Regions from separate parts of the Homo sapiens genome. Here region 1 is linked to region 2. The links come from fine-mapping of genetic effects on gene expression. Tissue or cell type: nucleus accumbens. Region 2 holds a variant in brackets; the other region holds the start of a gene. All regions are shown on one strand. Distances are from middle to middle.

The links. PIP is the estimated chance that this variant, and not a neighbour inherited with it, causes the effect.
Region 1: it holds the start of RPS23, and the variant in region 2 is fine-mapped to the expression of RPS23 in nucleus accumbens (GTEx, PIP 0.95).

What each region holds. Positions count from the first base shown.
Region 1 is chr5:82,276,851-82,279,615 of GRCh38, reverse strand. RPS23 (ribosomal protein S23) reads left to right here and starts at 1,262. Exons shown (of 4, transcript NM_001025.5): 1 at 1,262-1,296; 2 at 1,764-1,923. The coding sequence starts at 1,293. It also overlaps the pseudogene ATP6AP1L. RefSeq lists an enhancer at 942-1,271.
Region 2 is chr5:81,351,928-81,354,692 of GRCh38, reverse strand. The region is part of intron 5 of ACOT12 (acyl-CoA thioesterase 12); the gene reads left to right. Among named protein-coding and RNA genes, the nearest start is that of ACOT12, 41 kb to the left of the region's middle. The variant C/T (reference allele first, on the strand shown) is at 1,438.

The DNA.
Region 1 (2,765 bases), 920 kb before region 2:
GCACTAGCCCATTCTACATCTGCACAGAGATGTCACCTTAAACTACCCTATCCAGAGTAGCCACCCCCATCCCCAAGTCACTATCACCCATCCAGCTATATTTTCTCTATAGCTCTACAGTATGTAAAAATCATCTATTTAATTATTTAATTTACATCTATCTAACTGGTCTGTCCTCTCACATTTAGAATATAAACTGTATCAGAGCAGAAACCTTCACCCTCTTAATTTAACCGCCATATTCCCGGTACCTACAACAGCGTCTGGCACATAGAAGGCATTTTTAAACATCCTTGCTGAGTGAACCAATATCCCAGAAACCTCTCACAGCTAGTTCATCTTACAGGAGAAACAGTATTAAAGAGTTAATTAAATGGCCAGGCGCGGTGGCTCACGCCTGTAATCCCAGCACATTGGGAGGCCGAGGCGGGCGGATCACTCGAGGTCAGGAGATCGACACCAGCCTGGCCAACATGGTGAAACCCCCTCTCTACTGAAAATACAAACATCAGCCAGGCGTGATGGTGGAAGCCTGTAATCCCAGCTACTCAGGAGGCTGAGGTGGGACAATCGCTTGAACCCGGGAGGCGGAGGTTGTAGTGAGCCAAGATCGCACCACTGCACAACAGCCTAGAAGACAGAGTGAGACCCTGTCTCAGAAAAAAATAAAAATAAAAATAAATAAATCTATAAGTAAATGACTCGCCAGTCAAAATAAACGGCAACTTTAGGGTTAAAGGCCCAATCTGGCTCCAAAGCTTGGGGTTTTAGTTACTACACTACATTGCTTCACTATATTTTACAATTTACTAGCTGCTTATAAGTATGAATTAAGGCTCAGAAGTCTAATTTTCCAGACTACTCGGAGGACTCTCGCCCCACTCCACTCCACAAAGATTCAGCTCAGCGACTCCTTCCTACTCTGACCTAGCCCCGCGTCCCGCTCTCAGTGGCTTGGGCAAGAGCGCCTGCGCGGTGAGCGGGTCCCATAAAACGCATTCTGGGATTGGTAGTCCATGTTCCTCCGGTCTCCAGCATTCAAAAGAAAAAGGGGGAAAAAAAACCATGCAAATTAGATATCTCTGAATTTCTTGCAAATTAAATAAGACGCAGATTCTGGCTCAGGAAAGTGATGCAAACGCGTCGTTTTCAAAGGAGAGACCCCAGCCTCGGGTCAGGCGCGGCGCAGACAGCGGCGCGGGGTCCTTGGCTGGGCGGGGCTTGCTCGCGGTGGCTTGTGGCTCCTTCCTGCGGTGCTTCTCTCTTTCGCTCAGGCCCGTGGCGCCGACAGGATGGGTGAGCTGTTGTGGCCGGTTTAAGGGCGCTGCAAGCGGGACTTGGGGTCTTGGGGACGGGCGGGCGGATGCGAATAGAGTAGGGCGGGGGATGCCATGGAGAGGCTCCATGGGGGAGGGCCGGGGAAGCGCCGCTCCAGGAGGCACGTGGTCCGGCGCGGAAGGGGCCCATGAGGCGTGGAGGCCGCCGAGGTCGGGGTACCGAGGGACGCAGGGAGGCCAGCGCTTCCTCCCGGGCATTCGAGCGGGGCCTCGTCCTTCGGGAGAACACATTCTCCGGAGCCCTCTTCGAACGTTTATTAGTCGGTTCAGGGCAACTTGAAGGCCAAATGTTTGGCCCACAGGCCAATAAATAGTACGAGAGCCAATCGGCTTAAGGGTTTATTCCAGGTGAGGCGAGTGTCTTAGAAGATGGGAAACACGTAGATGGCGTGTTTTTACGGAAGAACTAAAATATTTAATTTTTAGGCAAGTGTCGTGGACTTCGTACTGCTAGGAAGCTCCGTAGTCACCGACGAGACCAGAAGTGGCATGATAAACAGTATAAGAAAGCTCATTTGGGCACAGCCCTAAAGGCCAACCCTTTTGGAGGTGCTTCTCATGCAAAAGGAATCGTGCTGGAAAAAGTGTAAGTCCATTGCTCCCGTCAAGTTTTAGTTTATTATAGGAATTCGAGACATGAACTTACGAATTCTTGTTTTGAAAGTAATTGCAGGTTTTTGTGTAGTAGTATTCATTTGGGCATTGTGGGGTAAAATTGCAAAGCGTTTGTTCTATTTAAAAGTTGGTAAAATTAGTTTTTGGGAATTAGGTAGTTAAGGTTTTAATTTAACGTTGGCCTGGAAGGAATTGGAGAAGATACTAGCAATGATGAAGTAAAGGACACAAACACCTTTACTGTGGGAGTTGTTATAAGTAAATGGCACGTGTCAGCTATTGAACTTTATCGACTTGATAAAACTAAGGTGAAGAGAAGTGACTTGCATCAGAATTAATTGAGGTCATACACCTAAGATTGAGACATGAAACTGCCAGTATTTGACTGGTTTTGACTTTTTAAAATAATAATTTCATATAGTTCTATCATATTTGATGGTAGAGCCATTTTAACCCAGACTTTTTTTTTTTTTTTTTTTTTTTTTGAGACAGTCTAGCTCTGTCACCCAGGCTGGTGTGCAGTAGCGCAAGACTCCCTGCAACCTTAGCCTCCCAGGTTCAAGCATTTCTCCTGCCTCAGCCTCCCAGGTAGCTGGGATTACAGGCGCCCACTACCACACCAGCTAATATTTTGTATTTTCAGTAGTGATGGGGTTTCACCATGTTGACCAGGCTAGTCTCAAACTCCTGACCTCAGGTGATAATGCCTGCTTCGGCCTCCGAAAGTGCTGGAATTACAGGCGTGAGCCACTGTGTCCGGCCCAGACTTTCTAATTCTTACCTCAGATACCTTTTTTCTTTTTTCTTTTTTTT
Region 2 (2,765 bases):
AAAAATAATTATTGAGGAAGAAGTTAATTATAAAAGAAAGAGATAATTCGTGTCAAATCTGTACTTTAGACACTGGGAAATTGTTGTCATGTTTTTATCTTGGAGGAATGGGGATCTCTGCTACCCTGAGCTCCCTTGCGAGGGTTCGTCTATTGGGAAGGGTTGCTAGGATGGTGACTGAAGCTGTCTTCACACCCCCCTCAAGGTAACAAGAGCCAGGTAAACATGGGTGGCTGCACCGGCTTCTTCTGGTGTTGTGCAAGTTGCACTAATAAGTGAAATCAGCAGCAGACAATTTGTCTGCACAACACTAACAGTACTTTGAATACTGGAGATAGTCTAAATTAGTGACAGGCACACATGACAGTCATTCAAATATAGAGATAAAACGATTGCAATTGACTTGAGTTTCAGTGTGTTACAAAGTTGGCCAGATTAGATCTACATCTACATGTCTAGTTCAAAGTTCAATTTCAAATTATAGATTTTTCTCAAAGTCTTCTTTTATCATCTGCTTTGTTTAATCTGCCCTAACTTATTCTACATCCTTTCACATAAAACAACTTTTAACCTAATTCCACTGATCTGATTTTGTTTTTGGAAATTTTACTAACTTCCATGCCAGCAAAGGTGCCAGAGAACTTAAAAGCAATTCATCTTAAAGAATGCAAGAGCCAGACTCTGACATTTAAAGCCGCTGTGTAGTATGTGATTTCTCCACCTGCTGCTCCTTAGATCAGATGGAGTTGGTTTTTGATAGGACATTGTGTGTTCTAAAAGAAGAGAACCAACCCATCTCTGTTCTTGTACCATGTTTTTAGAAAACCAGGGGTTTGTGTTGGTTATAAATATCAAACATAAAAGATTGGAATATTTTTCAAGATGTTGTATGATGGAAATGCATATTATTAGAACAGTGAGAACATTGAATCCAGATCATATCCTTTCGGAAGAAAAGAAAAGAGATGAGATTAGTTTTGTAAAAGCAGGATATTTCTGGAATGTGTATAAGCACGCACATCTCAGAAATACTACTGGATCATTATTTGCAAGCTTGACATATAGGGGAAAAACTTAAAATTTGAAAGCATTTTAATTTAATTTTTGAGTAAGAAAATCAGATCTTAAGAGCATTATCATGGTTAATTTTCTGGATATGCAGAAAGAAAACTAGGGCTAGCATGACCTCAATTCAGGTCAAAGTTCCTGATCTACAAATGTAGAGTGAATGTAAAGTTGTCAAAGCAGGTTGATGACACAGTACTTTAAGAACATCCAAAGTACACGTATTGAACTTGATCACTCAAAGCCAGCAGAAAGGGTGAGTTCTGTTTACTTAACCCAAACCAGAACTGCGAGCCTGAATTGCTCTCTGAACCTGGGAAAACCCTATTTTTTTCGTTGGTTGTAAATTAACTCCAAATAAGCAAACTTCTG[C/T]ACCAAAGTCATCTAACTCAATATATTTCTGCATACGTATCATAGCTGATGCTGGTGCACGTATAATCTCACCTAGCACCTCCCTCTACAGGTTCCAGTATATACTGTATATGTCTTCATAGGAAGTATGTGGTTTCTCTTTAAAGTTATCCCTCAGAAAAGAAGGAGCTGCTTTATATTTGAGTCTTTACAATGTCTCTCATAAGGCCTTCTCTTAATTTTTTATTTATAATTATCTAAAAACTATTTTTAAAGAGATAGTACATGCACAGGGTAAAAAATGCAAAACGCATAAAAAGGCATATAGTTAAAAAGTAAGTCTGCCTACCGTCTCACTTCCCACCTTCAGAGACCGTCACTATCACACACACTTCAATTTCTGTGGGTACACAGTAGGTGTATATATTTATGGGATACATGAAATACTGTGATACAAGCATACAAATGTGCAATAATCACATCATGTAAAATGGGGTATCCACTCCTTCAAGTGTGACAAACAATCCAATGATACTCGTTATTTTTAAATATATAATTAAATTATTATTGACTGTAGTCACCCTGTTGTGCTGTCAAACACTAGGTCTTATTCATTCTTTCTAACTATATTTTTGTACCCATTAACCATCCCCACCCTCCCACTACCCTTCCCAGCCTCTCATAAGCATGCTTCTGCTATCTCCATGAGTTCAATTGTTTTGATTTTTAGCTCCCACAAATAAGTGAAAACATGCAATGTTTGTCGTTTGTCTTTCTGTGCCTTATTTCACTTATAATGATCTCCAGTTCCATCCATGTTGTTGCGGATGACAGGATCTCATTCTTTTTTATGGCTGAATAGTATTCTGTTGTGTATATGTATCATATTTTCTTTATTCATTCATCTGTTGATAGACACTTAGGTTGCTTCCAAATTTTAGCTATTGTGAACAGGGCTGCAACAAACATGGGAATGCATATATCTCTTCAGTATCCTGATTTCCTTTCTTTTGGGTGTATACCCAGCAATGGGATTGCTGGATCTGATGATAGTTCTGTTTTTAGTCTTTTGAGGAACCTCCAAACTGTTCTTCATAGGGGTTGTACTAATTTACATTCCCACCAACAGTGTATGAAGGTTCCCTTTTCTCCACATCCTTACCAGCACTGGTTATTGCCTGTCTTTGGGATAAAAGGCATTTTAACTGAGGTGAGATGATACCTCATTGTAGTTTTGATTTGCATTTCTCTGATGATCAGTGATGTCGATACCTTTTTATATGCCTGTTTGCCATTTGCATGTCTTCTTTTGAGAAATGTCTATTCAAATCTTTGGCCCATTTTTTAAT